3 linked regions of the Homo sapiens genome follow. The protein of the gene in region 2 purifies or fractionates together with the protein of the main gene of each other region. This does not show direct contact. Each region holds a gene or a part of one and is shown on either strand. Other genes may lie near its edges. The genes, in order: WRNIP1, REV1 and CDC27.

The links.
Region 1: the proteins of REV1 (region 2) and WRNIP1 purify together in Homo sapiens (affinity purification with western blotting, with the first as the bait; one study listed by BioGRID). This does not show direct contact.
Region 3: the proteins of REV1 (region 2) and CDC27 purify together in Homo sapiens (affinity purification with western blotting, with the first as the bait; one study listed by BioGRID). This does not show direct contact.

Annotation. Positions count from the first base shown.
Region 1 is NC_000006.12:2,768,374-2,772,027, reverse strand, and holds part of WRNIP1 (ATPase WRNIP1), read right to left. Parts: intron 3,338-3,654; coding exon 3,146-3,337; intron 1,971-3,145; coding exon of another isoform or gene 1,915-1,970; exon of another isoform or gene 1,909-1,914; coding exon 1,667-1,908; exon of another isoform or gene 1,652-1,666; intron 1-1,651. UniProt on the Homo sapiens protein: Functions as a modulator of initiation or reinitiation events during DNA polymerase delta-mediated DNA synthesis. In the presence of ATP, stimulation of DNA polymerase delta-mediated DNA synthesis is decreased.
Region 2 is NC_000002.12:99,402,870-99,406,523, reverse strand, and holds part of REV1 (DNA repair protein REV1), read left to right. Parts: intron 1-33; coding exon 34-199; intron 200-417; coding exon 418-614; intron 615-1,846; coding exon 1,847-2,080; intron 2,081-2,708; coding exon 2,709-2,829; intron 2,830-3,417; coding exon 3,418-3,635; intron 3,636-3,654. UniProt on the Homo sapiens protein: Deoxycytidyl transferase involved in DNA repair. Transfers a dCMP residue from dCTP to the 3'-end of a DNA primer in a template-dependent reaction.
Region 3 is NC_000017.11:47,137,177-47,140,830, forward strand, and holds part of CDC27 (cell division cycle protein 27 homolog), read right to left. Parts: intron 1,716-3,654; coding exon 1,563-1,715; intron 185-1,562; coding exon 1-184. UniProt on the Homo sapiens protein: Component of the anaphase promoting complex/cyclosome (APC/C), a cell cycle-regulated E3 ubiquitin ligase that controls progression through mitosis and the G1 phase of the cell cycle.

The sequences.
Region 1 (3,654 bases), on a different chromosome or scaffold from region 2:
TTATTGACTTCATGTCATCAATATTAATTATTGATTTCATGTTCTATTTCATGAACTGATGACATGAAATCAATAAAAATCACCCCAGACAAGTACACATGCAGAATATTAAGTTGCAGATACATTACGATAACCAGTACACAGAGCAAAGAACACACAGAAACATGAAACATGTTAGGATTTCCCCCCTTTTCTTTCAATTTGTCTTTACCATGTGGTTCTATGCGTCTGTAATGAGAATTCTGTTACGGGAAACCTACACATGAGTATCCCACATCTGAAGTGCCTGGGACCAGAAGTGGTCTGAATTTCCTATTTTTTTGATTTTAGAATATTTGCATTATATACTTACCAGATGAGCACCCAAAATCCAGAAATCTGAAGTGCTCCAATAAGCATTTCCTTTCACAGCATCATGAAGGTGCTCAAAAAGCTTTAGATTTGGGAGCATTTTGGATTTCAGATTTGGGATACTCAACCTGTACTACATATGAGGAGCTGGCAGCCCCCTTAGGCTCTGACAAATGCCCACCACATAAAGCACTTCTGAGTATGAGTCCATGTGGCTGATACCACAGGTTCCACACACTGCTTGTGGCCACAGATGTAATGGCTATCCCCATCACAACGGTATTCCAAAACAAGGCCACTCTGTCCTACCCAGTGGTCCACGGGCCAAATGTTTCAATGCTTTCATTAGACACAGCAGAATTCTCCCTCCATCTCAGACAGGAGCAAATGGGGCCAGACACATAGGGAGAGCCTGGTGAAACCTAAACCCTGAGCCTAAACTATGCCTTGTACTTTAATCCTCACAGAAAAGTGGCTCCAGAACTTGGCCTCAGGGCAGGCACGAGCAGCTGCAGAGTCCACAGCAGGAGGAGGTGGGCAATAGCCTCTCATCACACCAGATTATGTTCCATGGCAGTATTTCAGCCAACGTATGAACAAATACCATCTGAAGAATATGTTCTAATATTAAAAAAAAGGAAAACCCCTGACCCAAGAAATCAAATTATCTATGATATACACTTGGTGCATTAACGAGCTCATGTGGTACTCATGATGCAGAAATAGGTCACTAAAAGGATAGGGACAGCCTATAATGTCATATTCAGTTAACATTCCTTTACTTTCATGAAACTGAGTTTCAACTACACAAAAAGGATTACATAATTTTAAGGTTACAAGTTAATTTTTACTTGATTTTTTTTTTTTAACAAAATGCTAAACTGCAGGTTAAAAAGAAATTGAAACATGAGTACAATGCTCAAAAGAGTTGTATGGTAAGTCTAGAAAGTATTTATCTATCTATTTGTTCTATTCAATGAGGGACATAAAGCCTTTCAAATCATCAATAAGGCTTCCCATAGAAGCCTAAGCACAAAAGCAAACACCCAAGAACCAAAACAACAAAGCAAAGTTAAAGCTTGAAGAATTATAGAAACACATATTAGAGGCTGGAAAATGCATCTTCAAGTGTGCAGGGATAACTTTGTTAGGTATAATCGAACATTTCCCTCCTCTTTTATTTTCATTACGGGCGGATCAACATTTCTTCTCTGTCCCCACCCTCTCCTCACTGACGCCCGGCCCTTTCTGGCCCCCTGCCAGGAGACTCTCTGGGAGGTGTGTGCCCCCAGGACGCTGCACACTGTCAACTTACTCTGAGCTGCTGTTGCTGCTGTGGCTCAGAGGGTCAGTGGGACGGCTAGAGTCTAGGACGTGGATTCCCAGGGAGTTGATCGCTCGCATTAAAATAGTCACCATTGCCTCTACTGGAAGCTTCTCAAGAACAATCACTCGACAGCGGCTCAGAAGAGCAGCGTTGACCTGGAAGGAAGGGTTTTCAGTGGTTGCCCCAATCAGAGTGATCGTCCCACATTCCACGTGAGGAAGGAAAGTGTCCTAATCATGGGAGGAAAACAGAAAAAAGTGATTCCAGTCAACAGCCACCTGCAGAATCCTATGTAAGTTGGCTATCCCTTCCTTCCTTTTCCTCATTTTTATCTTTCGAGTTCAGGAATAGCAGCAGCCTTATATTCACTGAATATAGATGCAATATTTGGGGGAGTACAACTCTTGCTTTTAAGTCTGAAACACATCTTCTGGAATGCCCGTCCAAGCCTGATCTCTTGCTGGTAGACTAATAGCTTTAAGTAGAATTCTAGCTTAGTTTCAACATAAATGATTTCTTTACTCAGAAAACCATCTTCTACCAAAGGCTGAACTGGCACATAGCTTATATGTAACAGCTATTTATTTATAGACAAGAACACACAAAAACATTAACACTTCCAGAATCTTCTTCCACAGCAAGCACTCAATCATATTATTATTATTCCTATTATGCTGTTTTATGGGGAAAAAATACTAAGATGAGTCAGTGGTCCAATATGAAACCTAGAATGCTAACGCCTCGTCAGAACTTTAAAAGGGTCTTTTTATTCAAAAAGGTTCAAAAAAGGCTCAGTAGAGTTTTGTGAAATATTCTATGTATGATTAAAAAGTTACAAAAAAAAATTTTTTAAAGTTATGCCTAAAAATTTAATTTTTTTTTATTTAGAGTATAGCTCTCAGATCTCAGCCCAATAAAATTTTAATGTTTATTTTTTTTTAAATCCCTAAGTGGCTTTGTTTATAAAAATAGCTTGTGTCCTTTTATTTCAGAAACCCATTTAAATAAACAGTAATCATTAGCTCTTCCAACATTCACCTTGAAGACAGAGCCTGGAGTTACAGAAAATACCGATTGTTTAATTTTCAAAATAAAAATACTGTTAAAGTAATTTTTAAAAACCCATTAAAATAATGACCTTAAAATCATTATTTTACTGTTCACAATGACTCCTAGTATTTAGATTAAAAATTCCTAAAACTGGAAATTTGATTCAAAGGTGCTTTTCTGATACGTATAGCTCAGGGATATGCCAACCATTTCATTTATCAGATAGAGAAAGCATTTTCTTGTTATCAAAAAACACTAAGAAATGTATGGAGAAATAGGCTTGAAGGAGATGGGTTCACAAGCCTACGCTTCTTTGTAAACAAAGCTCGTAAGTCTCTAGCGTTTGTATAGTGATCTCACACACTTTATATTGTTTGATGTTCACAACGACCAAAAGGTAGAAGGAAGTTAATATACCTGCTGAGATTTATTGAACCGATGAATCTCATCAATAAAAAGGATGGTTTTCCTTTTGAAAAAGCTCTTTTCATTTTGAGCTTGTTTTATGACATCTCGCACATCATTTGTCTTGGCATTTGTTGCAGATAATGTCACAAACCTTATGCTATGTTTCTTGCTGTTGCTGGCTATGATGTGAGCCAGAGTGGTCTAGAAAAGATGACATACATGGAGTTTGAAAAGCTGGTAAGACACAGAGAGACCAGCACCCATGGGAACCACCACACGCAGCATCACTATTTACCAAAAGCAACTTGACCTCGGAAGAATGCTGAGCAGCACAGAAACAATCAAAAATACCACAGGACATTTAAAAACAACAACAACAAAAATATTATAAATAAAACAGGAAAGTAGCTAAACCTTAGGCTAATCCTGACCTTTTCTCCTCTGTCCCTAACCACCTTTGATTCCTTTTTGGGTGACTCTTTAAGATCTTTGGAATCCCAGTAAAGAACGGCTGTCTT
Region 2 (3,654 bases):
TCCTAGAAGCATACTCTTTATTCTGGGTTCTAGGTTGGGATTCACGTGAATCAGTTGGTTCCAACTAATCTGAACCCTTCCACATGTCCCAGTCGCCCATCAGTTCAGTCAAGCCACTTTCCTAGTGGGTCATACTCTGTCCGTGATGTCTTCCAAGTTCAGAAAGCTAAGAAATCCACCGAAGAGGAGCACAAAGAAGGTTGGTGGTCATCAATGTGGTTCTTTTTTAGGTGCTGCTTATGTCCTTGGAAAGACGGCAGTTGGTTTTAAAATTGACACAGCTTTATGTGATTTTAAAAATTTATATTCTTCATTATGATGAATCAGTAATAAAGTTTTTTTATTTGTAATGGACAGAGGATTAAAGGCCCTGCCCGATGATCTGAAGAGGCTATTTTATATATTTTCTTTTTGTAGTATTTCGGGCTGCTGTGGATCTGGAAATATCATCTGCTTCTAGAACTTGCACTTTCTTGCCACCTTTTCCTGCACATCTGCCGACCAGTCCTGATACTAACAAGGCTGAGTCTTCAGGGAAATGGAATGGTCTACATACTCCTGTCAGTGTGCAGTCGAGACTTAACCTGAGTATAGAGGTCCCGTCACCTTCCCAGGTACATTTTTGTAGTCCTAAATATAAGTACATTTTATACTCCTAAATATAAATACAAAAATACAAGTTTACAAATGAAAATGGCATTTTTATTTCTTCATCCGTTTAACCAAGAAAGGGAGAACGGGCCACTTGTTTGGGTAGATCATGATGTTGGATTCTAAATAAGCAATATTTGGGTTGAGTGAAAGTGCTTTTGCAAAGATTTGCCACTCTTGCAAGTTGTAAAGCATAGCTGAAAGGCAGTCCTCCTGTGGACTGCCATTGTCTGTGACAGTGGTCATCATGCAGACTTACTGTATTCAGCAAGGCAGCTTTGGTGATTAGTGGTGAAGTAGAGGCCTTATGTCGAAGGGTTTTTGCAGTATTTGCAAACAGGTCTCTGGAGATTTGGATGGTTTAATTCAGCGTGTGTGGGCTGTACATGTGATATACTGCTGGTCCTTGAAAGTAAGGTAGCACCTTAAGCTATATTGGGCAAGTTTATTTGTGCCTCTGCTCCCCCTGCATGGAAGGAGGCGGAAGGAGATGTTAAATACTGGCTGCAAAACTAGGGGAAAGGGCAATGCTGATATGCTTGTATGGCGACAGATACCCACAATTAGTTACTCCTGGCAAGATAAGATTGGTCCACCCAGTTGATGGGATTGCATGTTTCCAAAGGGCCAGATGTGGATGCACAGGTAGGCCCTGGCCAAAGGAACAGTGGATTCTGTCCTGTAAGTTAGAGAAAATTCAGCTTCTAGAAACCCTTTCTTCCAGTGTGCTGCTCTCAGAGTAGAATTATTTGTATTTTTGGGCAGTCTCTCATCTGAAAGGTGAACTTTTGACCCAGGACTGTTACCTGTCCAGAATTTTAACATGTGCCTCAGGCCTTCACCCCTCCCTGGGGTGGGATCTAATTTGAGCTTCACCAAGGCTATTCATATCTGTTGGCCCCAATTGCAGGACATTCTGTGAGTATATTTGGACTTACCTGGTCATGTGATAGTGGCTGGTAGTATATATACACTTCTTTCCAGACTACACATAGTACTTCAGGCTTCAATGACAAAAGGCCAAGACGTTCCAAAAATGTGCTGATTTGGAGGTGGCTTTCCTAGCTTGATGGTCTGTACCTTACATTGATTATCCACAGTATTCAAATTGAAATTTAAAGTGGCGTGTTAACTCCCAAACACCTCATCTCTGAGCATGCTTTAACTTCCTACTCATATGTTTGGCATTTTATAGCTGGATCAGTCTGTTTTAGAAGCACTTCCACCTGATCTCCGGGAACAAGTAGAGCAAGTCTGTGCTGTCCAGCAAGCAGAGTCACATGGCGACAAAAAGAAAGAACCAGTAAATGGCTGTAATACAGGAATTTTGCCACAACCAGTTGGGACAGTCTTGTTGCAAATACCAGAACCTCAAGAATCGAACAGTGACGCAGGAATAAATTTAATAGCCCTTCCAGCATTTTCACAGGTAAGTTAAATATGGGAACCCTCTGCTGTAGTTTCAATATTCTCACCCCCCTGCTCCAACTTAGGACCTGTCTCACTTCCCTTTCTCCTCTGTATCTGACACCACATCCACTGGGGAGGGGAGGGGAGGGGAGGGGAGAGTGGGCTTGTCTCCATCTCCTGCATCTGCAGGATGTAGACACAGAGCAGCCTCCCGCTGAAGCAGCAGGGAAGAGACGGGGGAGGGCATGCTAAGACAGAAACACACTGATCTGGGGCAAACACATCAATGGCCACACTTGAATACAACAGAGCGGAGATGTATAATCCTGCATGGGGGACAGTAACAACCTGAGTCCCTGTTTCAATGTTTTGCTTCCCATTTTCTACTAGTGCATTTTGCCCAGGTTCTGCTGTTGTAGTGGGTTTCTTTAAGTTAGTACTCTTAATTCCTTATTCTTGCTCTTAATTCCTTATTCTTGCTCTAACCATTTTGAAGATTTAATCAGCTTTGATATTGGGGAACTGTTAAGAATTCGTACAGATCAGAAAAGTGAGATTTGAAAACAAAGTCTGTTTTGTGAAAAAGAGAAACCAGCTACCATCTACAATTAGCTCAGGTTTGACTTTGACCTCGTCTTTTCCACTAGGTGGACCCTGAGGTATTTGCTGCCCTTCCTGCTGAACTTCAGAGGGAGCTGAAAGCAGCGTATGATCAAAGACAAAGGCAGGGCGAGAACAGCACTCACCAGCAGTCAGCCAGCGCATCTGGTGAGCCTTGGAAGTGGCATGTAACAAAAATGAAGACAAAGAGTAATGGAGTCACTGTTGTCTAATTATTGCAGTATATAATGGGCAAAGTCTAAGCTGTTGCATTAAGAGCTCTTCATATTGGGATAATATCTGAAGTATACAGTATGAGTAAATATCATCATATTTCTAGTTGGATTTGTGTCTGTACTTTCAGGATTTAAACACACCACTTTTTACTTTTTAAAAAGTTGGAATAGGACATTACCACAAATGTCTTAAATACTTGTTCAGCTAGTTGTCCTTTGAGATGAATACATTAAAGGATGTTGGTTCAAAATGCATCACAAACATCAAACCCACATTTAGTACTACCCATCATAGATGAGCAACATGCCAAAGGTCAAATTAGTAAGTGGCAAAGCAAAGAGAGAATTGGAGAGCCTGTACTTTGGGCCATTGCCATTCACTGCCTCTCACTTGGGGCAGGAGGGGAGGTGTAGGCTAGGGAGCCTGTTGTATTTGGGAGGAGAAAAGAGAACCCAATACTGTCATCCAGACTATCCATACTATCATTTTGTTGAGGATCTTATATCCATCTGCTCTTAGTGCCAAAGAATCCTTTACTTCATCTAAAGGCAGCAGTGAAAGAAAAGAAAAGAAACAAGAAGAAAAAAACCATTGGTTCACCAAAAAGGATTCAGAGTCCTTTGAATAACAAGCTGCTTAACAGTCCTGCAAAAACTCTGCCAGGGGCCTGTGGCAGTCCCCAGAAGTTAATTGATGGGTTTCTAAAACATGAAGGACCTCCTGCAGAGAAACCCCTGGTAATTCCTTAACTTTGAC
Region 3 (3,654 bases), on a different chromosome or scaffold from region 2:
CTCTGATAGCATTTCGAAAACAAGCTAATGCTTTGTCCAATTCTTCAGTTAAGACAAACTCATGCCCTAATAGAGTATAGGCATAAGCGTAATTTGGATCAACTTGGATAGCTCTCTGGAAGAATTTAATTGCAATATCATGTTCCCGTTGCAGACTGAAACAGTTCCCTGCAGCACACCAGGCCTTAAAAAAATGGGAACAAAAACCAAACAGAATTAAAATTTTACTTTTTCTAAAACCAAATCTATGACTAAAATCAAGCCTCAACTTAGAACAGAAAGACAAAAATGGAGGAGCTTCAGTAGATACTCAATTCTAATTATTCACAGATTCCATATTTGTGAATTTGTCTGATTGCTAAAATTTATTTGTAAAACCAAAATCAATACTTGCAGTGCTTTCATAGTCATCAAAAGGTATGTTCTCATTTGAGGTTGAATAATGTGACTCTACCTTCTTGTTTTAGCTCTCATGCAGAGATGACCAGGGACAGAAACTCTGTGGGCTAGTTTAGTGTAGTGCAAGAAGCTTTGGCTCTGGGGACAGTTGGACAGAATTTGAATCCCACTGCTGGCACTTTTAAGTAGGATGGCTTCAGGCAAGTCACCTCTGAACCTCATTCTCTCTCTTTTTTTTTTTTTGAGATCTGGTCTTGTTCTGTTGTCCGGGCTGGAGGGCAGTGGTGTGATCTTGGCTCAATGCAACCTCCGCCACCTAGGCTCAAGTGATCCTCCTGTCTCAGCCTCCCGAGCAGCTGGGACCACAGATGCCAGCCACCATACCTGGCTAATTTTTGTATTTTTTGTGGAGAAGGGTTTTGCCATGTTGCCGAGGCTGGTCTTGGAACTCCTGAGCTCAAGGAATCCGCCTGCCTCAGCCTCCCGAAGTGCTGGGATTATAGGTGTGAGCCACCACACCCAGCAGCATTCTCTCTTTTGTAAAGAAAATAGGATCTACCAGGATGAGTTATTTTTAGGATTCAAGATTATAATCCACAATCTATCTCTGTTTCAAACTCTCCATCACTCCCAGGAACATTGGTTCAGTAGCACTAATTCAGTGTTCATGTTGACTACAGAATTACCGCAAATAATGGGAGTTGACTGTGTTTAATTCTAAGCTTAGATATGTTACAAAAGTATCATTAAATATTTTTGAGATGCAATGAAATACAATCTTACAAGATTAGAGCATGTACATTAATTGCACCTATGTCTTACAATGACAATACTAATTTATTTTAATTTAAAATTATTAATTTTTTCAATCTATGTAACTTCTGCTCAACGAACCCTAATCTTGGTGACAACAGCAAATTTAACGTAGTCAAATCTCGATAAATCCTGAATGAAATAGCTGCTTTGTGATTTTTCTATTTGTGAATCTGCACCACACATTCTAGGACTTTCTCTTCCTCTCTGAGTCCCTGACTAGAGAGAGAGGAAAAAAAAGAAATAAGCGTGGGTGACACTAAATAGTGTTTGAATTGCTTGGTTCATCTCTATCTGTTGAGGGTGATCAAAAAGGTAACTATATAAGCAAAGTATTTTGGTTAACATACCTCTGGCGAATTTTTATCCATGTCTGTTAAGTCTTTTGACAGAACTGAAAGAGCAACATCTTTTTGAAGATGCCAAAGTGTTGTAGAGTAGATCTCCATGCCTTCAACTCTATAATTCTCAATCCTTCTAACCTCTGAGAATATTCTTTCAGCCTGAAATAAAAAAAACTAGTAAGAGAAAACAAGTTGATACAATTTATATATATACACAGGGAAAGCCCTGGTCATTATCTTCACAGGATCTAAATGCTGCCTTGTATTATGGTTTTTATGTGAATGAGTATTAACACAAGGACAAATTCAGCAATCTACTATGGCAGGTCAAATAGTGATGTAACCATATTGACAGTCAACCTAGTATTTATATACAAGCCATGGTAAGAACATGAACTCTGAAAAGGAAATTTGAGTTTCTACCAAAAAGACCGAAGAGAAATCTATACAAAGCTACAATTCAAAAGAAAAGTCAATATTTCCTTCTCAAAAACCTCATTTCCAAGTTTTAATAATGGCATTACAGAATAACTCTTTTTTTTTTTTTTTTTTGAGATGGAGTCTCACTCTGTCGCCCAGGCTGGAGTGCAGTGGCGCAATCTCGGCTCACTGCAAGCTCCGCCTCCCGAGTTCACGCCCTTCTCCTGCCTCAGCCTCCCAAGCAGCTGGGACTACAGGCGCCTGCCACCACACCTGGCTAATTTTTTGTATTTTTTAGTAGAGACAGGGTTTCACCATGTTAGCCAGGATGGTCTCGATCTCCTGACCTTGTGATCCACCCGCCTCGGCCTCCCAAAGTGCTGGGATTACAGGCATGAGCCACCACACCTGGCCAGAATAACTCTTTTAGGAAAGATGATGGAAGAATGATTTCTGTAACATAAAATCTATTTTTGAACAATTTTTACCGAGAGGTTGTGCCAGAAAATTTAGAGGGAAGAAACAGGTTAAGCTGGCTATCAATCCTATGGTTATAAATCCTATTGAGCCCTGAATATACACACCAATATTGTGTCTGCTAGGAATCATAGGCCCTACCTATTAATTATCCTTTCCTTTGCAGCACTCTCTTGACTTCAGGGTCTCTCCTCAGCTGCCTCATCAATTTTTTTCCTCATCACATTCACAGCTCCCAGAACTGTGTTTCTCTCCCTCTAAAGTTTGAGGATTTAGGTTATATAAAATCAGTTTCCTAGTTTATCAATTTACCAAGTTCAAAATTCTCAGCTGCCAGAAAAGGTCTAGGTAATAAAAAAAAAAAGAAAGGAAAAGAAATTTTCACAGTTTAGTTTATAATAAGGAATATCTGGACTATTCTTAATGAAATGAGTATGACAGAAAATAAGAGCATTTTAAAACTGAGTGCTTAATTCCAAGAAGTGGTCATATGATATATAGGAATAGCTTAACGATTTGTAACTTCCTTGCAATCTCTTAAAAGTTATAAAGGTAAGTGTGCAGCCTTGACCTGCAGGGCTCAAGTGATCCTTCCACTTCAGCCTCCCAAGTAGCTGGGACCACAGGTGAGTGCCACCACACCCAGCTAATTTTTTCATTTTTTTGTAGAGACAGGGTCTCACCACATTGGCCAGGTTGGTCTCCAACTCCTGAGCTCAAGTGATCCCCCTTCCTTGGCCTCCCAAAGTGCTGGTATTATAGGCATGAGCCACCACACCTGGCCAAGTTTTTCATTCAGGCATGGTAACAAGATAAAAGACCTACCAGCCAAATATAGGTAGGTACCTTTTGGTTTCAAAGTTTTCAGAATCTGTTGCTTCCTCTGAAAAATGATTATGGCATAGACAAAAAGAAAAATGGGAAAAAAACTCAGAAATTAAGTTGAAACAGAGGCTTTCTTTAATTAAATATTTGGGTCACCACTATAACTAGGGGAAACAATAAAATTCATTTATGTTAAAGTAGCTGTGAAACAATAAATTAGAAATAATTTTTTAAATGGCTTTTCCGAACACAGCTCTTGCCTGTCTGTGTATATGCTACATACCAGTAAAGGACCATAATCGAAACATGGGTTTTGTAGCAATGAATAAGACTTTCTGTCTTCAACTCTCTGTTCTGTACTATTCAAAATTAAATT